Regions from separate parts of the Homo sapiens genome. Here regions 1, 2, 3, 4, 5 and 6 are each linked to region 7. Evidence: fine-mapped expression QTL. A gene starts in region 7. Each other region holds a variant in brackets. All regions are shown on one strand. Distances are from middle to middle. Region 1 overlaps BCR (BCR activator of RhoGEF and GTPase). Region 2 overlaps BCR (BCR activator of RhoGEF and GTPase). Region 3 overlaps BCR (BCR activator of RhoGEF and GTPase). Region 4 overlaps BCR (BCR activator of RhoGEF and GTPase). Region 5 overlaps RAB36 (RAB36, member RAS oncogene family). Region 6 overlaps BCR (BCR activator of RhoGEF and GTPase). Region 7 holds the start of BCR (BCR activator of RhoGEF and GTPase).

Region 1 (4,000 bases), 26 kb after region 7:
TTGCATGGCTGCACTTGGCTGGCAGAAGCTGGGCTGGGACGGGAGGACAAACACCTCCCTGTGCAGGCAGTGGGTTCAGATGGTCTTGGCTGGAAGGAGGGCAGATAATGGTGAGACCACGTTTGGAGGGAGGGCAGCATGGTGTCATGGGCTTGGGGAGGAAAGGAGAGGAATGGCCCCTTCTTCAGCACTGACTAGTCGTCCTGCACCGTGGAGGGTGTTCCGTCTTATTTTCCAGCGCTCACAACTAGGAGCCAGCAGTTCAGTTTTAGCCATCCCAGCTCATGGATTATGGAGCTGGGACCCACGCTTGCTCCTCCTCTTGCTCTGCGTTGCCCATCTTAGCTGTGCCCTTGGCCGCCACTCTGACTCCAGTGAATCACGTAGACTCCTTGGGCCTCTGAATTCCTGTCCGTAAATGATGAAGCTGAATGGCAGCATTTTTAAGATCCGTTAGTTTTGTGATTCTAAATAAAATTAAGTCATGTTGCTCTGAGTTCCCAGAAAATTATTTTAAGATCCGTTAGTTTTGTGATTCTAAATAAAATTAAGTCATGTTGCTCTGAGTTCCCAGCAAATTATTTGGAAATCCCTCTTGGTGGATGTCCCAAAGCAGCCTTCCTGTAGGATCCTGGTTGTGTCTGGCTTCCTGCAGTAATGTGGATTGGGGTGGATTGGCCTCTGTGTGCACCCTTAATGGGAACCAGGACACTGCTTTGCTGGCTGATTTGTTGTCCTCCCTTACTGCCCACTGGCCAGTCTACAGGTCACCACCAGGACTGGAACAGATTTCAGAGGCCGTGCAGGTTTCATCTGGGGCAACGTGCCAAAGTGCAGAGCGTGGGCAGCGGGAGGCCCTGCCGTCCGCGTGGATGGGGGAGACGGCAGCATGGGGGTGTCTGCCAGGGCGGAGGTGATGATGTGCAAGCAGGTGGTTGGCAGCAGGAGGCCTGGTAGTGCCAGCTGGTGTCTTGCCAGCCAGAGCACAGCCCCGCTTGGTCAGGAATGCATGTGCTGAGGCCAGCACTGAGATGAGCAGGCATGCGTGTGTGGCCACCCCTATTTCTGTGCTATAGTGGGAGGAGCACATTAGGTACTTTGAGGCCATAATTTACCTTTGTTACAGATGACCAATTCCCCAACAGCCTCCCAGCCTTTTGCAGGCCCCACCTGGGATCAGAAGGCAAGGTATCCTTCCTGCAGGGAAAGCCTGTTAGTCTTTCCTGAGCATTCTTAGTGCCAGTTGGAGTAGGGGCTGTCTTGGTACTGAGCTGGCCGGTGCTGGAGATGGGCTGGTCAGTCTGGAGGGCATAAGGACAGGAAGGATACCGGCACTGAACGTTGTCACTCCTGTGGGGGTACAGATGCCTCAGTGGAAGCCACGCTTTCCTTCAGAATATTGCATTTGGTGGGCCTGTCTCAAGGTGCACTTTGACTCCTGAAGACCCTCCTTCTCCTCCTCTCACGGATCTGCCGGTGTTCCCTCTCTGGAAGGCTTGCAGGAGAGACAGGATCCCTCCCTTTACTGGAACTTTGCACTTGGGTTTGGCTTTGTGCTTTGTAAGGGGATCCCATTCAGCGTCCAGGATCCGAGCCTTGCTCTATTTCTGCAAGGAGCTGGTGGTTGCTGCTCGCCAAGGGGATACTCAGACAGCCAAAGCCTAGGCAGGATCAGAAGCTCAGGCAGCAGAGCCAAGATTTGAACCAA[T/G]AATTTTTTTTTTTTTTTTTTTACTTTACTCTACAGTATTGGGATTGGCTGAACTTTCCTTAAATGACCAGATAGTAACTAATTTTATGTTTGTGGCTGAGAGGCAAAATCGATGCTACTTTGTGGATACTTACATAACCATTTGGAATGTGAGCATGTGAAACTATAAAGAGCATTCTTAAGGCCTAGGTCACATGAAAACAGGTGGCAGTGGGCTGGATTTGGCCTGTGGGCTGCAGTTTGCCAACCTGTGTTTCACAGCGAGCTGCCTCCAAATGCCTGGTGGTGATGCAATCGATGACAGAGCCAGGTGTGGGCGTCTCACATCTGTGCTCAGGAGCTCACAGGAGCTTCTCTCCTATAGAACCTGTGAGGCAGGTAGGGTAGTCTTCCAAACCCCATGAGGATTCTTTCCTCAGAGAAGTTGCCGGAGGAGGAAAAGCTGGATGAGAGATGGTCACTTGGTTTCTAACTTCCCTTTCTCTTCCCTGTTTCCTGCTGCTTCCCAGGGCTGAATGAATATTCCCTGAAACAAGGCTGGCCATGAGCTAATAATCGTTGAAGCCAAATGATGGGGTAATGGGCATTCATGATGCTGTGCTCTTACTTTTGTATTTGTTTGAAATTTTCCAGGATAAAAAGCTAAGAAAATAGGCTGGGGGCGGTGGCTCACGCCTGTAATCCCAGCACTTTGGGAGGCCAAGGTGGGCGGATCACGAGGTCAGGAGATCGGGACCATCCTGGCTTACACGGTGAAACCATGTCTCTACTAAAAATACAAAAAAAAAGTAGCCGGGCGTGGTGGCGGGCACCTGTAATCCCAGCTACTCGGGAGGCTGAGGCAGGAGAATGGCATGAACCCAGGAGGCGGAGCTTGCAGTGAGCCGAGATTGTGCCACTGCACTCCAGCCTGGGCAACATAGCGAGACTCCGTCTCAAAAAAAAAAAAAAAAGTTAAGAAAATAGTCATTCATTGATTAAAGTTACCAAAAAACCCTTCCACATTGAGAGAACAGGGTGTTAAAACTCAGAAACCTTTTCAAGCCCCAAGATGAGCAAACTTGCTCCTCTTATTTCCTAGCAGCAGATGTTCCTGAGAAAGGGGTAGCTGTGCTTGAGCCATTCCATCATTCATCCAAGCCATCCATCTATCCATCTATTCATCATCAATCCAAGATCCAAACATTTATCTATTTATCTATCCACCCATCCATCCAACCAGTCATACAACCATCCATTTAACTATTCTTTATTCATCATCCATCCAACTAAATCTATTCATCCCTCTGTCATCCATTCATTCCTCCCTCCCTCCCTCCCTCCCTCCCTCCCTCCATCCATCCATCCATCATCTGTCTAACATCCAGCCAACCATCCATCCATTCAACATTGAACTATCCATTATTCACTCATCCATCCAAACATGCATCCATTCAGTCATCACCTATTCATCCATCCATTCATCCTCCAACCATTCATCTGTTCATTTGAAGTTGATGTGACACCTACTGGGGTCCAAGCACAATGCTTAGGCCTTGACTTTGTCCTTGACCTCAAGGAACCCATAGACATATATTAAAAACAGCTGATAAAGGGGTGCTGGGATGGAAGTGAGTACCAACCAGGCACTGAGAAGTGACTGACTCTGCTGGGTTAGCAGAAGGAAGACATTAAGGAGAGGATGGCCCATTAGTTGGATCTTGAATGGACTCAAAAGGAGTATATTGTAATCCCAGTACTTTGGGAGGCTGAGTTGGGAGGGTCGCTTGAGCCCAGGAGTTCAAAACCAGCCTAAGCAACATAGCAAGACGCTGTCTTTACAAAAAATTAAAAATTAGCCAGGTGTTTTGGTGCACACCTGTAGTTCCAGCTACTCTGGAGGCTGAGTTGGGAGGATCGCTTGAGCCCAGGAGTTTGAGGCTACATTGAGCTGTGATTGCACCACTGCACTCTAGCCTGGGCGACAGAGACAGACCCTGTCTCTGAAAAACAAAACAAACAAAAGGAGTATGTTAGGCCATTGTAGGGGAGGAGGAGAGGCCTTCTAAGCAGGGACTGTCACAAAGGAATGAAAGAGCCTAACAGCCTGGCCTGCCACAGGTTTCTCAGACACTTGGGATAGCTGGCATATGGTGTTGGGGTGAGAGACCAGCTAGTGATGATGTGGGGTGGTCTGGTGTTGACCCCCAGAGGCCAGAGAAGACTTCTGCATGGAGGATGGAGTGAGCATGGAGTGTGCGACTGCCATAGGCCCTGCTCAGTGCCCTACACCCCGTGTGTGCCTGTGACACC
Region 2 (4,000 bases), 31 kb after region 7:
GCCGAGATCACGCCACTGCACTCCAGCTTGGGCTACAGAGTGAGACTCTGTCTCAAAAAAAAAGAATCTCTTTTCTTTTTAAAGCTGAATAATATTCCATTGGTAGACACACATTTTGTTTATCCATCTCTCTGCCAGTAGACACTTGGGTTGCCTCCACCTTTTGGCTGTTGTGAATAATGTTGGCAGGAACATGGGTGTACAAATTTCGTGGCTTGTTTGCTAATTTATTTATTCATTTTTATTTTATTTTTTTGAGATGGAGTCTCGCTCTGTTGCCCAGGCTGGAGTGCAGTGGCGCGATCTCGGCTCACTGCAACCTCCCCTGCCTCCCGGGTTCACACCATTCTGCCTCAGCCTCCCAAGTAGCTGGGACTACAGGCACCCGCCACCACACCTGGCTAATTTTTTGTATTTTCAGTAGAAACGGGGTTTCACCGTGTTAGCCAGGATGGTCTTGATCTCCTGACCTTGTGATCCGCGCCCAGCCTATTTTTTAATTTTTTTAGAGATGGGGTCTTGCTGTGTTGCCCAGGCTGGTCTCAACCTCCTGGCCTCAGGCCATCCTCCTGCCTTAGCCCCCTGAGTAACTGTGATTACAGACATGCACCACTGCGCCCCTACTCAATGGTATTTTTCACATATCAGATTTTTACATTATTTGCCCCTCACCCACTTAACAGCTATTTGTTTTTCAACTAACTTCCTTTACTGTTTCAACAAATTTCCAATTATAGTAATTTTTACCCTAGAAAAAAGAAATTATGGGTTGAAGGTAAAACAAAAATACATATCTTGTGAATTATCTGTTCTTTTTCAAACATCTTAAAGACTTAGGCTGGGCACAGCAGCTCACACCTGTATTACCGGGAGGCTGAGGCAGGAGGATTGCTTGAGCCCAGGAATTTGAGAGCAGCCTGGGCAACAAAGTGAGACCCCATCTCTACAAAAAAATTTGAAAATTAGCTGGGCATGGTGGCATGGACCTATAGTCCTGGCCGCTTGAGAAACTGAGGTGGGAAGATAGCTTGAGCCCGGGAGGTCGAGGTTGCGGTGAGCCACAATTGTGCCACTGTACTCCAGCCTGGGTGACAGAGTAAGACCCTGTCTCAAAAAGAAAAAAAAAAAAAAAATTAAAGGCTTGAAAGATGTCATGATGTCATTTGATGGTTGTATATGTGCACGTATGTGCATTCAGGTGTAATTTACAGACAATGAAAGTCACTCTTGGTATACTGTTCTGTGAGGTGTGACAGCGTTCTGTAGCCATTACCTTCATCAAGATACACAGCAGGCCTATCACCCCAGAAACTTGCATTACCCCTTGTTCCTTGTAGGCATTTCTCCTACTTGCAGCCCACGACACCACTGATGTGCTTTCTCCCCTTACAGTTTAGCACTTTTCCGAATGTCATATAAATAGAATTGTACAGTGTGTAACCTTTTGGCTCTGGCTTTTTTCACTTTGATAATGCATTTGAAATTCATGCAAGTTGTGTGTACCAATAGGGCATTCCTTTTTATTACCGAGGATTATTTCATCCCACAGATGGGTCAGTACTGTTCTTCCCCTTTCTATCCCACTAACATCTTTATTCAGATGTAACATACATACCATAGAGTTCACCCGTTTAAAATGGACCATTCAGTGGTGGTTAGTATTATCTCAGAGTTGTGCAGTCATCATCACTGTCTGATTGCAGATCATTTTCATCACCCCCAAAAGAAACCCTATACCTATTAGCACTCTCTCCCCATCCCCTTCTTCTGTTAGTCCTGGCAACCACCAGTCTGCTTTCTGCCTCTGTGGATTTGTCTTTTCTGGGCTTTTCATAAATGGGATCACATGGTACATAGCTTTTGGTGACAGAGTTCTTAGAGCTTCTTTTTTTATTTGTTTGTTTTTTGTTGAGACGGAGTCTTGCTCTGTCGCCCAGGCTGGAGTGCAGTGGCGCGATCTCGGCTCACTGCAAGCTCCGCCTCCCGGGTTCACACCATTCTCCTGCCTCAGCCTCCCAAGTAGCTGGGACTACAGGCGCCCGCCACTACACCCAGCTAATTTTTTTGTATTTTTAGTAAAGACAGGGTTTCACTGTGTTAGCCAGGATGGTCTCGATTTCCTGACCTCGTGATCCGCCTGCCTTGGCCTCCTAAAGTGCTGGGATTACAGACGTGACCACTGCGCCCGGCCCTTTTTTTTGAGACAGTCTCACTCTGTTGCCCAGGCTGGAGTGCAGTGGTACAATCTTGGCTCACTGCAGCCTCCGCCTGCCGGGTTCAAGGATTCTCCTGCCTCAGCCTCCCGAGCAGCTGGGATTACAGGCGCCCACCACCACGCCTGGCTAGTTTTTTTTGTTTTGTTTTGTTTTGTTTTTTGTATTTTTAATAGAGACAGGGTTTCATCATGTTGTCCAGGCTGGTTGTAAACT[C/T]CTAACCTCAGGTGATCCACCCGCCTTGGCCTCCCAGAGTGCTGGGATTATCTTAGAGCTTCTCAATAGAAGTCCTATCTTCCAGGCCACATCTCACCCTCCAGGGGTAGGGGCTGGTGGAGCTGTTCTCACTCAGTTTGTCCTCAGTTCCTTCTTGAGCCTGGACCCTTCCCTCTAGATTTGGGGCTGCTCCTCTCAGAGTGCCCCAGAACAAAACCCCCTCCCTGTTCCCACTTCCCACTGTCTGCAGGACTCCCCTACCCCATAACCAGGGTCCTGCCAGCCCTACCCTCAGCCTCCCATAAGGGTCTGAAGTGGCAGGTGGATGGGAAACTGCACTCTCTGACCTCTGCAAGGGGACTGCTGCTTTCCCATGAGCTTCTCCTCTTTCCGTTGCTGGTTTCTTCTTTGTTATCTTTGCTGCTGGAGTGGCCAGACCCTGGGAAGCGGGCTGGAGAGAGGAGAGAAGCCATCGAGCCACATGGACCCCTACAGCCCGGAATCTGAGCTGTGGTAGGATTGGCTGCGATTGGGATTGGCAGACACACTGGGTTTGTACAGGAGGGGACCCTGAAGGATGGGCTGTGGTCAAAGTGGGATCCCTTCACTGTCCATAGTCCTTGGATCTGAAACTGCTGACAGGTGCCCCTGGGAACTGCTGTGGTATTTGGAGTCTATAGAGACACCCATTGCTCAGGACCCCAGGGCCTTAACAGGGAGTACACTGGCTTCTGGGAAGCTTGATGGAGTTGTTGCTGCATAGGTGCAGAAAATCCCAGCAGTGGAGTAAGGCCTGAAGTAAGCCCCCACTGGGCTCTGTGGGGCCTGGGGCAGCCTCCTCTGTTGCAGGGCCGCCAGCATCTCCAGCAGAAGTGCAGTGCTTGCTCTGGGGACACAGGGGCCTTTTGGAATGAGCATGTGGACTTGGCTTATGGATTGTGCCTACCCCAGAGCGTTGCTGTGTCTCTCAACACACACAGCTTCCATGGGCTGCTCACTCCAATTCTGATGGAGAGGGCATTTATGACTCTGTCCGTTGGTTTGTTTTCTCACTGAAGAGGAACATAGATGCACCTGCTCTCTGGGCAAGAGATGTGGCAGCTGCAAGCTGCACACCCTGTTCTGAATATTGCCCAGACCAGAATATGAATTACTTGGTCATAAATCAGTGTCTTGTCTGCAGAAAACTTGGCAATGTGAGGGACGGCAGCTTTAACTTGATTCCTGGGAGGCTGCCGGCCTCAAAAAGGACAAGGACTGGCAATCAGATGGGCATTCTCTCTAATTTGGGAGGCTTTCGGGCTTCCTCACGGAGTGCTGCTCCTGGGGACGTACCACAAGAACCTCCCTTGTCTAGTTTTGTTCTGACGCTTGGGCTCATTCACCTGACTGTCTCCTTGCTTGTCTGGCTCTCAGGAAAGCCTTCCCGGAGAGGATGTGGCTGACCCCTGCAGCCATCTCTCCACAGACAATCATGGCCCTGAGCTTGGCTGTCCTTGGTTGGGTACATCCAAGGCTCTGCCTGCCAGGGTAGGCACTGGCCAGGCTGTGGGATGGCAGCGTTGCTGACT
Region 3 (4,357 bases), 140 kb after region 7:
AGGCCTGTGAAATGTCAGGGGACAGGACCCCCAGGGAGGGAACCCCAGGCTACGCACTTTAGGGTTCGTTCTCCAGGGAGAGCGACCTCGTCCCCCGATCCTGACCGCCCTTCCGGCCCACGCTCTCCTGTTTGGCTTCCACAGGCCTGGACTTCTCTGGCTTCTCTGCCCACACACTCCCTGCCCCCAGTGTCCCTGCCCCTGCCCCAGCACAGGTGACTTCATTTCTGTCCTCTCAGCTCAGTGGACTCGCTCAACTTTTGTATAAGTCTCCACTTGGTGGCAGCAGCTTGCTGATGACTTGTTTTAAAACTTTCATCCTAAATAACCTTTTGATACTTGAATATTTGTAAGTTTTATACATAGTTTCTAATTTTTTTCCGAACAGATCCAGATACCTAATAAGATGCTGGAATGTAATCCCTGGACAATCCGTGTCCTGGCAGCATTTGGTCTTCCTCTAAGCGCCTGGCTCCGCTGTTCTCAGGAGTGGGTTCTGAAGTCTCTGGAGAACAGGATACGTGGAGGGTTAGGAAGGGGCCAGGCCTAGAGACGGGAGACTCCCTCCCGGAGCAGGTGGAGGCACAGGACCATTCGCTACCCCATCTGCCGACACCTGCGGGGGAGCCCAGGCATTCTTTGTAAACCCTCCTGACCACCTGGCTCAAAGAAAACAGAAGCATGGAGACCGCCAAGTATTTTCAAGAAATAACCCCATGAATATTCCATCACTTTTTTAGAAAGAGGGGCTTGGGGCAGGCAGAGGAGAGAAGGGAGAGCAAACTGAGAGCCAAGTTTCCACACGGTCCTGCAGGAGGAGAGGATGCAGCTGCCCAGAGGGAAGCAGGATCACATTTAAGGAAGTGTGTGGGGTCCCTGGATGACACCAGCACCCAGTGCGGCTCTGTCTGGCACCCGCTCCCAAGGTGGGAGGAGTGGGTGTCCCCTGTGTGTCAGTGGGCAGCTCCTGCTGAACCCGCAGCTCACTAGGGAGCCTGACAGTGGGGCCATGCGCCTGACACTCCTCTCTGCTTGTGGACCTGGCAAGGCAGGGAGCAGAAAACAGCCACTTGAAGGCTTTCTGTCTGCGTCTGTGTGCAGTGTGGATTTAGTTGTGCTTTTTTCTTGCTGGGAGAGCACAGCCACCATTTACAAGCAGTGTCACCGTCGTGGGTGGCGAGGACAGAACAGGAGCCTCTGCTCTCTGTACCTATCTGGGCCCGGTGGGCTCCCTTGTCCTGGCTTCCATCTCTGTCTCAGCGACCATTCAGCCCTGCGCAGGAACACGTGTTGCTTAGAAAAGCCAAATCCAGCCTTGTCTCTGCCTCCTCTGGTCTCATGATGTGCATCTGTTACCTTGAAACTGGAAACCAGTCTATCAATGTCTGTGCCAATTTTTTATTCCCTCCCCAACCTCCTTCCCCATACGACTTTTTATTTATGTAGGATGTGTGCTGTCTAATGATGGGATGACCACACTTTTCCATGTTCTAAAAGTGCTCCTCTCCCGCAGGGTCCCAGGGCTGGTGGTTGCTTTGGGTCTACAGCTACGTCTTACCCACCTCCTGCCTCAACAGCCTGTGTGGTGGCAAAGCCGGTGTGGGGCTGGGGAACGCAGCGTTCTCCAGGAGGGGGACCTGGCTCTCCTTCTGCAATGCAGGCGAAGGCCTAGATGCCAGTGTGACCTCCCACAAGGCGTGGCTTCCAGACTCCCCGGCCGGAAGTGATGCTTTTTTGCCTTGGGCCCTGGGTTTGAAGCAGCCTGGCTTTCTCTTGGTAAGTGGCTGGTGTCTTAGCAGCTGCAATCTGAGCTCAGCCACCTACACACCACCGTGGCCGACACTTTCATTAAAAAGTTTCCTGAGACGACTTGCGTGCATGTTGACTTCATGATCAGCGCCGCTGGGAAGAACCCCTGAGCCGGTGGGGTGGGGCTGGAAGCAGCAGGTGCAGTGATAGGGCTGGGTGCCCA[G/A]GAGGCCTCAGTGCTCAATCAGGCCAAGGTGGCCAAGCCCAGGCTGCAGGGAAGGCCGGCCTGGGGGGTGTGGGTGAGCACAGGCAGGCACCAGCTGGGCAGTGTTAGGATGCTGGAGCAGCATCCGTAACCCCACTGAGTGGGGTAGTCTGGTTGGGGCAGGGACCGCTGTTGCTTTGGCAGAGAGAGATGATCCCCACTGGGGAGAGGCTGTTCTGACTCTGCAGGTGGGACAGGGACAGATGGCCACCAGGGTGACCCGGCTGGTCTTCCTTTGCTATGCTAAGCCCTGGGACATGGAGGATTCCTGCCACCCTGGGCCCGGGTTCTTACCTGTGGCCACCGCTCTGGCACGAGCCCCTCAGTCTTGGGTGGTTTCTGCCTGGTCCGGGATTTGGTGTTGCTGCTGAGTCCAGCCTTTCCACCACCTCCGCATGGGCCGTGGGTGTTGTCAGCTGCCTCCCGCCTTGGCTTCAGTAGCTCACCCAGCTTACAGGGGAGCTGCCCTGGGCTGGAGATGGGCATGCACCCTGGGTCCTACTTGAATGAATGCAGCTTGAGGAGAGCCGGCCATATACACTGGGCCACAGGTTACCCTCGGCAATGCCCACAGCTGTCAGCCTGAGCCTCCCCAGGAGAGCAAGGCTCACACGACAAAGGCTGCCCGTGGCCAGTGAGGTGGCTGAGCCCAGCCAGGACCTTTCTCGGACTCCCGGGATGTGGCTCTGCTCGTGAGCTGCCTGGTCAGCTCTCTCGGGGTGAGAGGGGCTTGTCACACGGGCGCCTGCCTGCAGTGTGACCCTTCTCAGCTTCTCTCAGCAGCCCTGCCTGCGGAGTGTCACCGCCACCATGATCATTTCCCTGACACTGCGAGGGTGGGGGGACGTCCTGGGTAGAGACAGGGCCCGTGGCAGCAGCAGGCTCAGGGGAGCCCTGCACTGGTGGACTGGGGACCTGGTGGAGACCACGCCAAGGGCTGGACAAGGGGACGAGCCTCCACCCTGGCCTCTCCGCAGGCCTCAGCAGCCCCTCCCACAGGCAGAAGGGTTGACACTGGGTTCTGCCCTCACTGCAAGAGCTGCAAGTGCCACGTGCTGTTCTGCCCAATCTGGTGTCTGCAGGTGAGGAAAGGACTGCCGCTGGCCCGTTTCTGAGTGTTCAGCACCTAAGGGTGACAGCACTGTCTGTCCCTACCCTCCGGGTCCTGTTTGAAGATCAAACCCATGCTCACAGGCCGATATTTTTTTCTTTTAGAGACAGGGTCTCACTTTGTCACCCAAGCTGGAGTGCAGTGGTGCGATTATAGCTCAATGCAGCCTCCAATTCCCGGACACAAGGGACCTTCCTGCCTCAGCCTGCCAAGTAGCTTGGACTATAGCTGTGTGTTTTCTTATTATTTTGTAGACATGGGGTCTGGCTATGTTGTCCAGGCTATTCTCAAAATTCCCAGCCTCAAGCAATCCTCCCGCCTCAGCCTCTCAAAGGTTGGGATTACAGGTGTGAGGCAAGGCACCCAGCTCAGCCACAGAGCCCTATTGCATCTCTCTTACTAAGAGCAAGAGCTGACTTCCCCCTCATCCCCATTCCAGAGTGTTGGGGCTGTGTTCAGCCGAGGCCAGGCCACTGGCATGGGCCCAGGGAGCGGGATCATTCACTGCTGCCCCAAATCTGAGATCATTCCACCTTGACAAGACTTCCTCATCCAATCCCTTTACTTGACAGCTGGGGAAACCAGTGCACACAGAGCACCCCCAGCTCAGTCAGGGTCTCAGAGCTGATCCATGAGCGGAGGCTGAGATCCTGGGATCTTGTCCCCCAGCCTCCCTGCAAGCTTACTCCCTTTCTTCTAGAAGAGATGGGGCCAGACCTCGACCAGCAGCCCTGGCCTGGACATGACTGTGCTCATGCAGGTATTGAGGCTGAGATGCCCCGGCATCACATTTTTTTCTTTCTTTTTTTCTTTTTTTTTTGAGACGGTGTCTCACTCTGTCACCCAAGCTGGAGTGCAGTGGAATGATATTGGCTCACTGCAACCTCTGCCTCCCGGTTAAAGTGATTCTCCTGCCTCAGCCTTCCAAGTAGCTGGGCCTACAGGCTTGTACCACCACGCCTGACTAATTTTTGTATTTTTACTAGAGACGGGGTTTCCTCATGTTGGCCAGGCTCGTGTCGAACTCCTGACCTCAGGTGATCCACCTGCCTTGGCCTCCCAAAGTGCTAGGATTACAGGCATGAGCCATGGCATCACTTAAACGTAGTGAGAGGCCGGGCGCAGTGGCTCATGCCTGTAATCCCAGTACTTTGAGAGGACGAGGCTGTCAGATCACCTAAGGTCAGGAGTTCGAGACCAGCCTGGCCAACATGGTGAAACCGTGTCTCTACAAA
Region 4 (4,000 bases), 130 kb after region 7:
TATAGAGGTATGTTTTATGTCTCTGTCTGGGTACTGGAGATACCACAGAGAATGAACTGGACAAAGCCCTGTCCTCCACGTTTACTTTCCAGCAGCAGAGACAAACATAAGCCAAAATAAAGATCACGTCACAGGGGACGTGATGGGAGTCGGAGGAGGTATGGTCAGGTAAGGCGGATACCGTCATGAAGGCACCAAGAATCCTCATTTGTATTTCAAGGATTATCTGAGGGCCACGTAGGTCTTGTCCACACAGCCATTCACCCATTCAGGGGGGTCTCTGATGTGCCTGGGGGGCATTCCGAGATGAATGAGACATGCATGGTCCATGTGGCAGAGGCACCAATAGGAGAGAAACTTATGTATGTAGCCTCTTAAACAGACTTGGAGAGGGGCAGGCCCCAGGGGGTCTCTTGCAGCAGGAACACAAAATGAGTGATGTTTGTTTTGAACCAATATTTGGGGAAGATATGAAGATGTAAACATCATGAAAATGTAAGATCACATGAGCAAATTCTTACACAGATTCCACGGGATTCTTCTTGAAGCACACCGCCATCAACATGGATAGTGATACAGGTCCTCCTTGCTCTATTGAGAGCCACTTTTGGACCCTTTATTTTTAACTTTTGTACCATGAAATGCATCCATTTTTATAACCGAATGATTTTATAGTAAATTTACAGAGCTGTACAACTTTTACCAACAATCCAGTTTTAGAATATTTCTATCACCCCAATTTCCTTGTTGCCTTTTTTTTTTTTTTTTTTTTTAAGACAGGGTCTTGCTCTGTTGCCCAGGTTGGAGTACAGTGGTGCAACCACACTCAGCACAACCTTGATGTCCCAGGCTCAAGTGCTCTTCCTACCTTAGCCTCTCAAGTAGCTGGGACCACAGGCATGCGCCACCATGCCAGGCTATTTTTTTTTTTTTTTTTTTTTTTTGAGACAAGGTCTTGTTTTGCTGCCCAAGCTGGTCTCAAATTCCTAGGCTCAAGTGATCCTCCTGCCTTGGCCTCCCAAAGTGCTGAGATTACAGGTGTGAACCACCGTGCCCAGCCCCTGTTCCCAGTTATAGCCACTCCCAGACCCAAGCCGATCTGCTTTTTGTCTTTAGAGATTTGCCCATTCTTCACATTTCATAAACGTGGAATCATACTAGAGTGGGCTTTTTTGACTGATTTCCTCCACTTACCATTATGTTTTTGAGGTTTATTCATGTGGTAGCATTGTTTGGTTCCTTTTTATGATAATAATTTTCCATTGCATACATATAACATGTTTTTATTTCTGCATTTACTATTTGACAGACACTTGGATCATTTCTAGTTTGGGCTGTTAAGGTTGATGCAGCCACGAACATGTCCTTGGTACCAGTCTCTATATGGACGTATGTTTTCATTCACTGAGTAAACACCTAGTAAGATTGCTGGGCTGTGCAACAAGGTGACTATTTGGGGAACTGCCCTACGTTGTCTGGAGTAGCTGCACCATCTTACATCCCCAGTGGCCATGTATGAAAGCCCATTTCTCTACATCCTCACCGATGCTGGTTATAGTGTATCCTAAGGGAGAAGGGTGTGTTCCTTTTGAAGTGATGTTAGAGACTGGTTGGGATCAGAGAAGAGAAGCAAAGAGTTAAAAGTGGGATAGAGGCCAGGCGCGGTGGCTTACGCCTGTAATCCCAGCACTTTAGGAGGCCAAGTTGGGTGGATTGCTTTAGGTCAGGAGTTCAAGACCAGCCTGACCAACATGGTGAAACCTCGTCTCTACTAAAAATACAAAAATTAACCGGGCATGGTGGCAGGTGCCTGTAATCCCAGCTCCTCAGGGGCTGAGGCAAGAGAATGGTTTGAAGCCAGGAGGCAGAGGTTGCAGTCAGCCGAGATCTCGCCACTGCACTCCAGCCTGGGCAACAGAGTGAGACTCCGCCTTAAAAAAAAAAAAAAAAAGGTGCAGGATGGATCTCAGGAGAGCAGATTGTGGTCATAGACTACAGCAGGAGGCCTGTAATCTCTCTCCTGGTGAACACAGAGGTTCTCTGGTGGTCTCAGCAAAGACCCACCCCCGGGAGTAGGTTATAGTGCAGACACATGGGGCCCAGACAGGAACAACTGGGGTTGCCCTGCTGGACCATCCAGGCTGGTGACGATGGGCGTGAAGGAAGCTGTTGTCTACAAGGAGCTAAGTGAACAAGCATTTCCTCCTTTGGAAGGTTTACTCATAGCCCCCTCCCTGCCCCTGCTGAGGGTGGGTGAGAGGATGTCCTCCGGCTGCCCATTGGTGACTCAATCCAGCCACACTGACTACAAAGCAAGCAGGGCAGTGCTGGGCCCCCAGCAGAGCCACCATGCAAAGTGGTCAGTGATGCTTCAGGGCAGCACACAGCACCTGCCCCAGTTGGGCTTCGGCCTCCCTCAGCCCCCACCCCACCACTTCCCTGGGATGGATGTGCACGATAGTTTTCTAGGCAGACCTC[T/C]AGGCCACCATCTGCCAGGCCCGCTGACCATAGTCATTCTTTCAAGGCTCCTGCCTTACCCAGTCCAGGGGGAGAGGAGCAGCAACCTGGTCCATCCTCCTGAGACCACTGCATGTGAGCAGACAGACCCCTGCCTGCCCAGTCCCCGGCCAGGCAGCAGGCATGTTCCTCACCAAGACCTTGCAACCCAGGGGGACCCTGGACAGCATCCGGAGTGCCTCGGTTTTTCCCTTAAGGGAAAACTGTTTCCCCCTTGGTCATCTGTTTTTCCAAACCCCAGTCTTTTGCTTGTTTACTTCTCTGGTGCTTTAAATAACTGCACGAGAGAGCGTACCAGCCTTGAGCAATGTTTGGGATTGGCTGAGCTGAGGCACAGGCCTCATTATCATGCTATTCTTTATACGGCTTCCGCTCTGCGGCGCACACTCTGTTCTTTGGAACAGAGCCAGCCTTGGGACAGCCTTTCCCACTGGAGCTGCCAGTCAGGACCGCCGTGAGAGCCAGTGCCTGGAGGCCAACACCCTGGTCTTCAGTCACTGGGAGTCACAGAGAGGGGCCCGATAAAGAGCCCTCCTGGCAGCATCAGTACCAGGTTGGAGTGGGCGCTGGACACCACCAATGCTGGGGAGTGGACGCTGGCTGGAGCCCCACCCAGGGCTGCACATTGCTCAGCCAGCTAGCTCTGGGGGAGCAGGACCTGAGCAGGGTGTCCTCCACCCTGGGTCCATCAGAGGCACTGCATTTGATTATTGGGGTTACCTGCTGGGAGTGGTGCAGATTTTGGACAGTCTGGATTGCTTCCAGCACAAGGCAGGCTGACCAGTCATACTTTACTCAGTCTCCAAACTTGGGCAACAGGAAACTAGCCACTTGAGAAGGAAGCTCAGCTTTTCTGGGCTTTAGAGGAGATGGAGACACGTTGGAAATTCCCGTAACCAATAGGCTGGGGTGGGAGGGTGTTCTTCCCACACACACACAAAAAAGTGGAACCCGGAGGTGATGGGAAGCTTTGACCTTGGCCAGCCAGACTGCGGGGTGGGGTTTCCCTCAAAGCCTGGTCAAAAGGCCTTGGAGGCTGGAAGCTCTCGTTTAGCCCCACCAGCTTCCCAGAGCAGCAAGGCCAAGCATGCAAGAGTCACCATCCACCCTGGCCATGATGCAGGGCCTCCTTTGGTACTTCCACCCCAGCCGGGCGGGCCGGAGCCGGGCGGCCTCTGCTGAAAAGCACCTGTGGGCCGTGGTTCCAGGGGGGCTTTGAGGGGCAGCCGCTGATGTCTGGACAGCTTCTCTTTCTGTCTCTTCTTACCTGGACTCTGGGTTGCTTGTTAGCTGCTTCTGCCTGTTCTGGGTTTTCAAGGGGAGAGGGGCCCAGTGATGGCTGTTCTTTGAAGGAAAGGTAAGAATGTCTCCTGCTTAACATGTTTCTGTGTTTCCAGTTACTTGGTTGGTTAGTAGAGCCAGGGTCTCTCGCTTTGTTGCGCAGGCTGGAGTGCAATGGCATGATCATGGCTCACAGCAGTCT
Region 5 (4,357 bases), 31 kb before region 7:
GTCTGCAGTGCTCTCCTGGCCCTGCAGCCACATCAGCTCTCCCCACTCTACACTCATGCCTAGAAGTAAAGCAGGTGAATCAAGGAGGTCTGTCCATTGTCAGATTTACCTTGAGGAGCTGGGAGACTGGTCACTGACTGCCCAAGGTGGGACCGCAAGTTAATGGTGACACTGGGCAGCAGTGTGGCCTGGAGGTTATAAGGGCTGGGATTTTGCAGCCAGACAGTCCTTGATGTGAATCCTTCATTCTGATTCTGTCATTAAGCTGTGTGGCTGTGGGCAAATTACTCAACCTCTCAGAGCCACTGTTACATGAAGGTAATTCCTCTCATATTGGGTGCCTGGCTCATGGTATGCAGGAGCTCCCCTGCAGTCATAGTTGCTGTTGTTCTCATCATCGTTGTTGTTATCAAAACAGCATTCCAGTTCCATGACCCCAAATCCAGGGCTCTCTCCTCTTGCCATTCCGCCTCTATGAGCTTGAAAACTCACAGCTCTCTTGTGTCTGTATTAAAATCCAATATTAATTGCAGCAGGGAATACAAATTGAGTACAACCTCCATAGGGGGCAGTGGACAATATTTACCAATATAGAAGATGACCCTGCCCTCTAAGATCCAGCCATTCTGTTTCTTTTTTCTTTTTTTTTTAGAGACAGGATCTTGCTCTGTCACCCAGGCTGGAGTGCAATGGTGCCATCATAATTCACTCCTCTAACTCCTGGGCTGAAGCAATCCTTCTGCCTCAGCCTCCCGGAGTAGCTAGGACCACAGGCATGTGCTACCATGCCTGGCTAATTTTTAATTTTTTTTAATAGAGATGAAGTCTTGCTATGTTGCCCAGGCTGGTCTTGAACCCCTGGCCTCAAGCAATCCTCCCACCCGGGCCTCTCAAAGCACTGGGATTATAGGTGTGGACCACCACAACTGGCCTTGCTATTCTATTTCTAGGAATTTACTTGGCAGATATTCTGGCATGGGTTTACAATGTGCATAAGGATAGGGGTTGGAGCAGTTTGTAAGAATAGAAGATAAGATACAACGTAAACATCCTCGGAGAGGGGACTGGTTAAACAAGTAATGCTTCCTGGCACAGACATGAGGAAGAATGAGGCAACCTCTTCAGGAGCTGACATGCAACGAGAGCCAAAGTAAACCGTTAAGTAAAAATGCAGGGCATGGAACAGAGTGCAGTAGAGTGTGTGCAGCACACTCCGGTGTGTGAAAACAAGGAGAGGGAGAAATGTCTATTTGTTTATATATGCAGAAAATATTTCTGGCAGGATATATAAGCCCCTACTCTCAGTGGTTGCCTCTGTGGCTTCGGACAGGTGCAGAGGGATAGATCCTCTCCATGGAATGGCCTTTTTTGCATCTTGGATTCTGTGGCCAGGCTGGTGAGGAGGAGGTGACTCTAGACAGGTCCTGGGTATTTGGAGTATGTGGCTCTTCCTCCTTCCCCCTTCTTTACCTTCCTCCCTAAGTTCCTTCTTCACACACCTACAGAGAAAGGCTTTGTGTCTCAGACCTGTGGACAGTTCCCCATGGGTTTTCCATCTCAACAGAGGCTCAGGCAATTATTCTCTCTGCAGAGCTTGACAGTGGTAACTAGGGATGACAGAGACTGGTCTTTCTTGAGTCAAAAGGAAGGAAAGTGTGATTGGCACAAAACAGTCCAGGTATCATGAGATGAAGAACCTCATTGGCAGAGCAGACGGCGAGGATCAGAGTTAAGGAGGGTTGCCTGACATCACACAGCTGCTCCTGGTACCTCTGGGATTTGACCTGGCCGTGTCTGGCTCCAGAGCACCCTACCCCAGGGAAGCAGCTTAGGGAATCCATCCTGGTTTCACAGGTGGCATTCTCCCCTCCTGCCCATAATAGTCAGGGATCAAGGCCACTGCTGGTCAAGTTCAT[C/T]CTGCACCCCAGGGCCCTGAGAAATTCAGTCAGGTTGAGCAGGGTCTTCAGACTGCTTGCCAGGCAAGTCCTTCCCTTTATGCCATGTGCCTCAGTTTCCCTGTCTCTGAAATCAGCTCACACTTCTTACCCTGCAGCCTTCATTATCACAGTCTTCCAGCCATCCTGTAATGACCATTGTGTCTGAGCCAGTCCCTAGCTTAAAGCTGTCATGGAAGCTGACAGAAAGAAGCAGCCAGCTTGTTCATGGTAGCTGCTGCTCTTCTGCAGGAAAGTAGACTATCAGGCTAAGCTGCTCACCTGCATTATTCAGTTACTCCTCCAACGACCACATGAAAAGGTGCTATTATGAGCATCCCTGTTTAATATTTAAGGAAACTGGAGCTCGATAAGTTTCTGTAACTTGCCCTTTGCCAGTCTCCTTTCACCATCCCTGCTGCCTCAATCACAGCTGGAACTGAGAGGGCAGATGGGCCAGGCAGAGCCCGAATCCATGGTTGAGACACTGCGGCTGAGGGAGGGGAGCTGTGGATCCAAGCAGTGTTCAGAGGGACAGAGCAGGTGGCTGTGGCTGTGCAGGGGTGGGGGGCGGGGGGCGGGACCCTTGCCATACACAGATCACACCAACAGCCTCAATGGTGTCCTTCTCCCCACATCCTTGCCACATTCTGTATTTAGCCTGGGCCAATCCAATGGCAAAAAATAATGGTCATCTTTAGTTTGTTTAATCTCATTTTTTTCTAATTACAGACCAGGTGAGGGTGGGTGGGGTACGTGCAGTTTTTTCTGACCCTGAGGCCCATGCTCTTAAACCACTGCTCAGGTCTGCCTTCCAAGAAACGTGGACAGCAGAAAGCGCCTCCTAGGACATTTTCCAGGCACATGTATGCATGTTTTTAAAACAAAATGTCATCAGAGATTCATAGAAGGTATGGATTAGAGACAGGGTCTCACTCTGTCACCCAAGTTGGAGTGCAGTGGCATGATCATAGCTCACTGCAGCCTCTGTCTCTTGAGCTGAAGCAATCCTTCCACCTCAGCCTCCTCAGTATCTAGGACCACAGGCATGTACTACTGCACCTGGCTAATTGGATCTTGGAGGATCTTGGCACCAAAAGAGCTCCACTCGTCTCGCCCTGAGAGGGTTGAGACCCAGAGCAGACAGGCCTGTCACATGCATGCAGCAAGGGAACTGCGGCCCCAGGTGAGACACAGATCTCCAAGTCCCTGCCTGGGCTCGCCCCTCTGGACTCACAAGGCCCCAGAGCCTCAAGGCTGAGGAAATAGAAGATACACATGACAAATGGGTCAGGGAAAGCTAATGAGGCTGCCAGCTGTGAGGCCTAGGAAGGAAGGCTGGGAAGATCATCTCCCCTCACTGCTTGGCTACGAGGGCGGAGCCACAGCTTTGCAGGATGATGTGTCCGTCTGTCTGTCTCTTTGCAGTGGTACACGCCGGAAGCCTGTTTGCAGCTCAGGGAGCACTTCCACGGGCAGGTCAGCGCTGCCTGCCAACGCAGGAACACGGGGACTGTCGGGTGAGCCTGCAGGGTGTGGGATGGGGGAGCAGGTGGCAAGAAGGAATGAGTGCATGAAGCACGTGAAAGAATGAACAAATGAAACACACACACGAGGCTGGTGCAGCCCTGTACAGGCCTGAAGATGACTGGGGTTTTCTTTTTTTTTTCTTTTTTTTTTTTTTTGAGACAGAGTCTCGCTCTGTCGCCCAGGCTGGAGTGCAGTGGTGCGATCTCAGCTCACTGCAAGCTCTGCCTCCCGGGTTCATGCCATTCTCCTGCCTCAGCCTCCCGAGTAGCGGGGACTACAGGCGCCCGCCACCACGCCCGGCTAATTTTTTGTATTTTTAGTAGAGACGGGGTTTCACCATGTTAGCCAGGATGGTCTCGATCTCCTGACCTCGTGATCAGCCTGCCTCGGCCTCCCAAAGTGCTGGGATTACAGGTGTGAGCCACCGTGCCCAGCCAGATGACTGGGGTTTTCATCTGGCTTCAGTTAACACACCTGCCATATGGAACAACTTTCCCTCTTCTAAGTCACGCAGGTGATTTTTCAGCCTCAGGTCTTGGTACAAGTTCATTTCCTCTGTCTGGAATGTCTTTCCTAATCCCCTCGCTTCCCCTTCCCCTTCCCCTTCAGGTCTCAGCGTGTCAAGTCCTCTGGGAGCCTTCTCTGACCCCCCACTACCCTTGCCCCTGGACTGGGGAGGGTACCCCTCCTGGGTGCTCTTGTGCCCCCAAGAACTTATCTCACAGAATTGCAGGCTGGATTCCTCACTAGACCTAGCCCAAGAGGGCGAGGGCTGTGTCTGTCCTCTTCCTGCCGCGGCAGCTCCTGCCACCACTGGCAGAGGGATTGTGAAATAGTCATTCCTTCTTTTAACAAATAGGTACAAGGGCCTGCTTTTGCCCCTCTTCCTAAGG
Region 6 (4,000 bases), 120 kb after region 7:
GGTGATGGAGGAGAGAGTTAACACCACGCACCCACGGCAGACAACTGGAGAGCTCGGGGAGCAGTTTTTCCTCCAAGTCCCTCTCCCTCCTGTATCAACCCCAAGGATCACTCTTTTGTTTCCTTTTAGATATAATTCATTTTTTAAAGAGCGGTTTTAGGTTTGCAGCAAAATGGAGCAGAAAGAACAGAGTTCCCATGTACCTCCTGCCCCCCATCTCAATTATGGACATCCCACTCCAGGGTGGGACATGAGTTACAGTTGATGAGCCTGCATTAACCCATCATTACCACCCAGAGTTCATAGTTGATGTTAGGTAGGGTTCATTCTTGGTGTTACACATGTTATGTGTTCTGACAAACGTGGAATGACGTGTATCCACCATAATAATATCTTACAGAATAGTCTCACCGCCATAAAAGTGAACCTGCATCGACAGATCATTATCTTTCAGAGTCCATAGAAATATCTTTTTTTGAGGGAGAGTCTCACACTGTTGGCCAGCCTGGAATGCAGTGGCATGATCTTGGCTTACTGCAGCCTCCGCCTCCCGGATTCAAGCAATTCTCGTGCCTCAGCCTTACAAGTAGCTGGGATCACAGGCATGCACCACCACGCCATACTATTTTTCGTATTTTTAGTAGGATGGGGTTTCGCCATGTTGGCTAGTTAGTCTCGTACTCCTGGTCTCAAGTGATCTGCCCACCTTGGCCTCCCAAAGTACTGGGATTACAGGTGTGAGCCACCGTGCCCAGCCCATAGAAATATCTTAACAAGTACCCTGGCGATTGTGAGGCAGGTGGTGTGGGGATCACCCTTTGAGATGCTGGTGTAAGGAGTTTGGATTAAGTTTGAAAGGCAGTCGGAGCTTCTGGAAGCATCCGGGCTGGGCCACGGTCTCATGCCAGGGGTGCTTACAAGGAATACTTCCATGTGTCCCAGGACTAAGGGAGGAGGGTCTCAGGCATTGGTCCCTCTGGGCCAGCAAGGGCAGCAGGGAGAGCCCCGGTTCAGAGGACCCTTCAGCCATAACATTGACCCGTTTGTTCACACTGGACTTCCCTTCTCCCTTGGGGCTGCAGGAATTTGAGATAGAGCTGGAGGGCTCCCAGACCCTGAGGATACTGTGCTATGAAAAGTGTTACAACAAGACGAAGATCCCCAAGGAGGACGGCGAGAGCACGGACAGACTCATGGGGAAGGGCCAGGTCCAGGTGAGGCAGCCATCCCTACCCTCCCCTGCCCGATGCATGGCGTCCTTTTTCATGCAGCCCCTGGGGACACTGAGATGGTCATGGCCTTGCACCCAGGGTGGGGTGGGGTGGGCAGCTGTGGCTCTGAAACATCCATCGTGGGAGACCTGAGCCGGTGCCTGCATGTATCTTGATGGGTCTTGACGTACCACCCTCTGTCTGCGTGTCTGTTGCGTCGGCTCATTCCCAAAGGAATTTCCATTCAACTTGGTTTTGCAGCTGGGGCCTCAGTTCCTGCCCGGCCTTAGGAGAACCCAAGGTGGAACAGTTAGATGGTGTCCTAGGCTGAAATTGGCCCATCCTGTGCCAGTCTTCTTAGAAAAGCACAGGGGTCCCAGAGGCTGCCTGCAAGCACAGGGGTCCCAGAGGCTGCCTGCTTGGCATCCCCTATCTGTGGTCTAGACCCAATTTCTAGGGTATAGAGCTGTATCTCTGAACAGGGTGCACACAGACAGGTCTCCTCCCAGGCTAATCTGGAAGCCCCCAGGTGAGACCGAGAATGTGTCCATACAGGACCAGCAAGGGGGCCCTGGTTCTTAAGGAGACTGCCTGGGCCCTCTGTCCTTCAGAAGCTTGTCTAGCCCCTGGGAGCACGCCACCAGGGTTTCCTGGAGGATCATAGCTGGCGCCCCAGGCCCTGTTT[A/G]TCCTGTTCCCACCCTCACAATTGCGCGGGGGTAGCTGAGAGGAAGCCCTGATCGTGCTTTCCTTATAGTGCATTATATCAGTGGGTTGTGGGTACAGCTCTCTCTTCCCAGGACCTTCCATCTTCACAAGAGGCCTCTAGAGGGAGTGGGTTTGGCTTTCCACATGCCCCTAGAAGCACAGGGCTCCTCAGGAAGCCCAGTCTCCCTCCCTAAGCAGGAAGTAAAAATCCTCTTGTGGTTAAATACCAAGTGCCAGGCTGGGCGTGGTGCTCACGCCTGTAATCCCAGCACTTTGGGAGGCCGAGGTGGGCGGATCACGAGGTCAGGAGATCGAGACCATCCTGGCTAACACCGTGAAACCCCGTCTCTACTAAAAATACAAAAAATTAGCCAGGCGTGGTGGCGGGTGCCTGTAGTCCCAGCTACTCGGGAGGCCGAGGCAGGAGAATGGCATGAACCTGGGAGGCGGAGCTTGCAATGAGTCAAGATCACACCGCTGATCTCTAGCCTGGGTGACAGAGCGAGAGTCCGTCTCAAAAAAAAAAAAAAAAAAAAAAATACCAAGTGCCAGGAAGAATGAAGGGAGAGGGTGGCTCTTCCCTGAGTCACCTGTCATCTTTGCTGATGGATCCCACATTCTCATTCAGATCAGCAAATCTTTACCAAGTGCTGGCCTCACCCCCTTCTGCCACCCTGGCCTGGCTGGCCACATCTTCGGAGGTGCAGCTACTGCCTGTTTTTCTGCCTTGGAAGCTTATAAGGGAACTCAGTGGCTCAGAGCCTCCTGGGGCTCCCTATACTTTGAGATCAGGTTTAAAAGCAAAAAGACTCCTCTGGCACATGCCTGTATTCCAGCTACTCAGGACGCTGAAGCGAGAGGATTGCTTGAGCCCAGCTATTCAAGACCAGCCTGGGCAACATAGACCCCTGTCTAAAACAAAATAAATTAACTAAAAATTGCTCTCAGCTCTCCTGTCGCTGTCCCACTGCACTGTCTTGTTCACTCTGCCAGCCTTTGTGTGGATTCTCATGGTGGGAGATTGTACCACACAGATGGGCCACACCACTCTTGATGGAGTACTTAGTGCTGGTCTCCTTTGAGATCCGAAGTATTTTAGCATCAGTCAAATGACGGTCATAGTTTGGGTGATGGTCACGGCTCAGGTTCTTTTTTACACGTGCTTGCTTTGGTTGTTGTTGTTGTTCTTTGTTTTCTTGAGGCAGTATCTGGCTGTGTCTCCCAGGCTGGCGTGCAATGGCAGGATCATAGCTCACTGCAACCTCAAACTCCTGGCTGAAGCAATCTTTGTGCCCTAGCCTCCCAAGTTGTTGGGATTACAGTCGTGCCCCACCATGCCTGGCTAAGTTGTTTTTTGTTTTTTGTTTTTTTTTTTTTTTTCGAGACAGAGTTTTGCTCTTGTTGCCCAGGCCGGAGTGCAGTGGTGTGATCTTGGCTCTCTGCAACCTCCCGGGTTCAAGCGATTCTCCTGCCTCAGCCTCCCAAAGTGATGGGATTACAGGCCTGAGCCACTGTGCCTGGCCACATGTGCTTTCCCATTCGGTCCTTGCAGCAGATCTTTGAGAGAGCTCATTTGACACTCAGGAGATGCTTCTCTAACCTGCTCAGAATCAGGGCCCTGGGTATTCAGGGAGGTAGAGGGAGCAGACTGCAAAGCCAGTCGTGCTCCCATCGCTCCCACTTCTCTCTCCCTCTCCATGTTTTCTGTCTCCCCCACCCAGCCTAGGGCATTCCTCCCCCACAGTCCAGCCTGCATCTGGCACAGTGTCACTGCTCAGCCCAGGGATACTCACAGCCTGGGTGCCTGGCTCCTTTTTTCAGCTCATCAAACCAGGTAAAGGGAGGTTCAGATTCTGCCAACCATTGACTCAATTCATCCAAATCTTCAATCACTGGAATCCTGGGAGTGGCTGGATTTGAACCAGGACCTCTGAGTACTATTGCTAAGTAACTGGGGGTCTCAGTGAAAGAGAGAAAAGAGCTGATAGGCCTCTTCCTGTGTTATCATGTCAGGCCATCTTTTGAAACTCTTTTCTGCAATGCTACTGAAGTATTTATGCACGTGACCTGTGCTCTTCTGTCAG
Region 7 (4,297 bases):
TTACCCAGGCTGGAGTGCAGTGGCGTGATCCTAGCTCACTGAAGCCTCAAATTCCCAGGCTCAGTGCAATCCTCCCACCCCAGCCTCCTGAGCAGGTAGAACTACAGGCACGAGGCACCATGCCAGGCTAATTTTTAAATTTTTTTGTAGAGATGGAGTCTCACTATGTTGCCCAGGCTGGTCTTGAACTCCTGGGCTCAAGCGATACTCCTGCCTCGGCCTCCCAAAACACCAGGATTACAGGCATGGGCCACTGTGCCTGCCTTTATCATACCCATTTTAAAGAAGAGGCCATTGAGGGCTGGGTGCAGTGGCTCACACCTGTAATTCCAGCACTACAGGAGGCCAAGGCGGGCAGATCACGAGGTCAGGAGTTCAAGACCAGCCTGGCCAACACAGTGAAACCCCGTCTCTACTAAAAATACAAAAAACTAGCTGGGCGTGATGGCAGGCGCCTGTAATTCCAGCTACTTGGGAGGCTGAGGCAGCAGAATCACTTGAACCCAGGAGGCAGAGGTTGCGGTGAGCAGAGATCACTCCACTGCACTCCAGCCTGGGCAACAGTGTGAGACTCCGTCTCAAAAAAAAAAAAAAATAGGCCACTGAGGATGAGAGCACTGCTCAGTATGGCACTACTGGGATTCCAGCCCCTTTAGTGGCCAGGGCATCATTTGCATCTCAGTTTCCTCACATGCAAAATGGGCTATTTGCAGCCTGATGGGAAGGGGATGAGAAGGTCCGCTGGGTCCAAGGGACCAGGATGGCAGGAGGTTAGCAAGGCCTGCAGAGGGCAGCAGTGAGCTGCGCACCGCCCACCCAGCCTAGAAACTGGGGCCCATGGGTTTTCCAGGGCAGGAATGTTCTCCAGGGGCACTAATATTAACAGGCAATCACGAAATCGACCCCTACACACCATTTATCAGGTTGTGTTTTATGTTTGCCCCATCTGGGCATTTTATGCAGGATGCTCTCAACATTTTGTACCGTGGCCCACAGGACTGGGTGGAAGACAGGACAGCTCAGAGCAGGGAGTGAAACAAAATCTTTGATGGTTCTCTAGGGAAGCCTGGAAATCTGAGACAGGGCAAAGAGCAGGGAGTCTGATGAGCACAAAATTAAAATACCCAAACCAGCCTGCCGGGTCAGGGGAAAAGGAAGCAGGATTGGGCACATGAAGAACAGATGACAAAACTGAGGCTCAGAGAGGCTGAGAGAGACACTGCTGAGGTCACACAGCCAGGAGTCGGCAGGAAGCCCTGAACCCAAGCAGGGCTGGCCTGGCTACTAGCCTGGGCTCAGTCCTTTAGATTGGACTTCAAAGTATCTGCTCCAGATGACGCTGGCATTGGGAGGAGGGCATGATAATCCCTAACATCCACACAGGGACAACAGCACTTGGAGGCAGATGTGCTTCTCACTTCAAGGAAACTGAGGCAGAGAGGGAGAGGTGGTCAGGACTCAAGCCCAGTAATTCATTTGCCAAATCCTGTTTCCTTTTCCCCCAACCCAGCGGGCTGGTTTGGGTATTTTCAGTTTGTGCCCATCAGAGTCCCTGCAGAGTGCTCTCCACTGTGTCTCAGATCTCTGTGTCCCCAGAGAACCATCAAAGGTTTTGTTTCACTCCCTGCTCTGGGCTGTCTTCCACCCAGCCCTGTGAACCTCAGTGCAGGTTGGCCGCCCCCTTAGAGGGAGGCTAATCAGGGAAGTTCTGAGTCAGGTCGTCCTGGAAAAACTACATTGACCTCTGGAGCTCAAGAGAGGCCAGGGGACAAACACATGGCTCAGCACACAGGAAGGCAGGTGTGGGTATTGAGTGACCTGAGGGAGAAATCCCTATTTATCATCCATCATGTGGTCCTGCTGTGACAAACCCGTGTGGCAGCCACCCACAGCAGATCCACAACGTGAGAGGCCCGCTGAAACAAGGGTGCTGGCATTGGTTACTCAGCCTGGCCCTCCCTGCCTTGCGGGGTGACCTGCCTGGTCCTGGCCTCTCTGTGAGTTGGGCCCTGCTGGGTGGTCCCTAGTGTGCCCAGCCCTGAGGCTGGTGAGAGGCCAGGCTGTGAGGTGTGAGGAACTTACCTGCGTCTCCATGGAAGGTGCCCTCCGCATCGTTGGGCCAGATCTGCCTGGTCTTGCAGATGCCCACGATGGTGGCCTCTGACACGACGACTGGGCAGTGCCGGTGACGCTTATGGCACTGCGGCGTGGTAGGGGCAGAGGGGGGAGGTTGCTTCTGTCGGAGGACTGCTGCGAGTTCTGCCAGAGAGAGCAGCTCTTGTCCCGGAACATGAGGTAGGTGGTGGGGCTTGGGGACACGCGGCTGGACTGGCCGGAGAAGTCCTCCTGGCCGGAGGGGAGCCAAGTGTTCCTGTTCCAGGACTGCAGAACTGGCCCAGACCTCTGTATTGGAAAGGTCTTTATGGACCAGGGAGTCCGGTGTCTTTTTTACGGGGGACCCCTGGGCTGCGAGTTGCACAGTCCAATTCGCTGTTGTTAGGGCCTCAGTTTCCCAAAAGGCACAGGGACGGGGGGAGGGTGGCGGCTCGATGGGGGAGCCGCCTCCAGGGGGCCCCCCCGCCCTGTGCCCACGGCGCGGCCCCTTTAAGAGGCCCGCCTGGCTCCGTCATCCGCGCCGCGGCCACCTCCCCCCGGCCCTCCCCTTCCTGCGGCGCAGAGTGCGGGCCGGGCGGGAGTGCGGCGAGAGCCGGCTGGCTGAGCTTAGCGTCCGAGGAGGCGGCGGCGGCGGCGGCGGCACGGCGGCGGCGGGGCTGTGGGGCGGTGCGGAAGCGAGAGGCGAGGAGCGCGCGGGCCGTGGCCAGAGTCTGGCGGCGGCCTGGCGGAGCGGAGAGCAGCGCCCGCGCCTCGCCGTGCGGAGGAGCCCCGCACACAATAGCGGCGCGCGCAGCCCGCGCCCTTCCCCCCGGCGCGCCCCGCCCCGCGCGCCGAGCGCCCCGCTCCGCCTCACCTGCCACCAGGGAGTGGGCGGGCATTGTTCGCCGCCGCCGCCGCCGCGCGGGCCATGGGGGCCGCCCGGCGCCCGGGGCCGGGCTGGCGAGGCGCCGCGCCGCCGCTGAGACGGGCCCCGCGCGCAGCCCGGCGGCGCAGGTAAGGCCGGCCGCGCCATGGTGGACCCGGTGGGCTTCGCGGAGGCGTGGAAGGCGCAGTTCCCGGACTCAGAGCCCCCGCGCATGGAGCTGCGCTCAGTGGGCGACATCGAGCAGGAGCTGGAGCGCTGCAAGGCCTCCATTCGGCGCCTGGAGCAGGAGGTGAACCAGGAGCGCTTCCGCATGATCTACCTGCAGACGTTGCTGGCCAAGGAAAAGAAGAGCTATGACCGGCAGCGATGGGGCTTCCGGCGCGCGGCGCAGGCCCCCGACGGCGCCTCCGAGCCCCGAGCGTCCGCGTCGCGCCCGCAGCCAGCGCCCGCCGACGGAGCCGACCCGCCGCCCGCCGAGGAGCCCGAGGCCCGGCCCGACGGCGAGGGTTCTCCGGGTAAGGCCAGGCCCGGGACCGCCCGCAGGCCCGGGGCAGCCGCGTCGGGGGAACGGGACGACCGGGGACCCCCCGCCAGCGTGGCGGCGCTCAGGTCCAACTTCGAGCGGATCCGCAAGGGCCATGGCCAGCCCGGGGCGGACGCCGAGAAGCCCTTCTACGTGAACGTCGAGTTTCACCACGAGCGCGGCCTGGTGAAGGTCAACGACAAAGAGGTGTCGGACCGCATCAGCTCCCTGGGCAGCCAGGCCATGCAGATGGAGCGCAAAAAGTCCCAGCACGGCGCGGGCTCGAGCGTGGGGGATGCATCCAGGCCCCCTTACCGGGGACGCTCCTCGGAGAGCAGCTGCGGCGTCGACGGCGACTACGAGGACGCCGAGTTGAACCCCCGCTTCCTGAAGGACAACCTGATCGACGCCAATGGCGGTAGCAGGCCCCCTTGGCCGCCCCTGGAGTACCAGCCCTACCAGAGCATCTACGTCGGGGGCATGATGGAAGGGGAGGGCAAGGGCCCGCTCCTGCGCAGCCAGAGCACCTCTGAGCAGGAGAAGCGCCTTACCTGGCCCCGCAGGTCCTACTCCCCCCGGAGTTTTGAGGATTGCGGAGGCGGCTATACCCCGGACTGCAGCTCCAATGAGAACCTCACCTCCAGCGAGGAGGACTTCTCCTCTGGCCAGTCCAGCCGCGTGTCCCCAAGCCCCACCACCTACCGCATGTTCCGGGACAAAAGCCGCTCTCCCTCGCAGAACTCGCAACAGTCCTTCGACAGCAGCAGTCCCCCCACGCCGCAGTGCCATAAGCG

What was found.
Region 1: its variant is fine-mapped to the expression of BCR in ileum (GTEx, PIP 0.97).
Region 2: its variant is fine-mapped to the expression of BCR in whole blood (TOPMed, PIP above 0.99). The same link has a PIP of 0.9 or more in T cells.
Region 3: its variant is fine-mapped to the expression of BCR in lung (TOPMed, PIP above 0.99). The same link has a PIP of 0.9 or more in anterior cingulate cortex, blood mononuclear cells, pancreas, spleen, sun-exposed skin and thyroid.
Region 4: its variant is fine-mapped to the expression of BCR in whole blood (TOPMed, PIP above 0.99).
Region 5: its variant is fine-mapped to the expression of BCR in whole blood (INTERVAL, PIP above 0.99).
Region 6: its variant is fine-mapped to the expression of BCR in sigmoid colon (GTEx, PIP 0.95).

The regions. Positions count from the first base shown.
Region 1 is chr22:23,203,932-23,207,931 of GRCh38, forward strand. All of the region lies in intron 1 of BCR (BCR activator of RhoGEF and GTPase), which reads left to right. Among named protein-coding and RNA genes, the nearest start is that of BCR, 25 kb to the left of the region's middle. The variant T/G (reference allele first, on the strand shown) is at 1,709.
Region 2 is chr22:23,209,306-23,213,305 of GRCh38, forward strand. The region is part of intron 1 of BCR (BCR activator of RhoGEF and GTPase); the gene reads left to right. Among named protein-coding and RNA genes, the nearest start is that of BCR, 31 kb to the left of the region's middle. The variant C/T (reference allele first, on the strand shown) is at 2,430.
Region 3 is chr22:23,316,169-23,320,525 of GRCh38, forward strand. It overlaps BCR (BCR activator of RhoGEF and GTPase), which reads left to right. Exons shown (of 23, transcript NM_004327.4): 23 at 1-1,869. It also overlaps the pseudogene POM121L11P. Among named protein-coding and RNA genes, the nearest start is that of LINC02556, 8.3 kb to the right of the region's middle. The variant G/A (reference allele first, on the strand shown) is at 1,973.
Region 4 is chr22:23,303,180-23,307,179 of GRCh38, forward strand. All of the region lies in intron 16 of BCR (BCR activator of RhoGEF and GTPase), which reads left to right. Among named protein-coding and RNA genes, the nearest start is that of LINC02556, 21 kb to the right of the region's middle. The variant T/C (reference allele first, on the strand shown) is at 2,479.
Region 5 is chr22:23,146,701-23,151,057 of GRCh38, forward strand. It overlaps RAB36 (RAB36, member RAS oncogene family), which reads left to right. Exons shown (of 11, transcript NM_004914.5): 3 at 3,363-3,454. It also overlaps a transcript of RSPH14 not described here. Among named protein-coding and RNA genes, the nearest start is that of RAB36, 3.4 kb to the left of the region's middle. RefSeq lists enhancers at 2,773-3,273, 3,274-3,774. The variant C/T (reference allele first, on the strand shown) is at 1,917.
Region 6 is chr22:23,293,942-23,297,941 of GRCh38, forward strand. BCR (BCR activator of RhoGEF and GTPase) reads left to right here. Exons shown (of 23, transcript NM_004327.4): 16 at 1,083-1,214. Among named protein-coding and RNA genes, the nearest start is that of LINC02556, 31 kb to the right of the region's middle. The variant A/G (reference allele first, on the strand shown) is at 1,897.
Region 7 is chr22:23,177,836-23,182,132 of GRCh38, forward strand. BCR (BCR activator of RhoGEF and GTPase) reads left to right here and starts at 2,674. Exons shown (of 23, transcript NM_004327.4): 1 at 2,674-4,297. The coding sequence starts at 3,126. It also overlaps a transcript of RSPH14 not described here and the pseudogene BCRP8. RefSeq lists an enhancer at 1,594-2,404 and silencers at 2,525-2,764, 2,835-3,104, 3,125-3,204.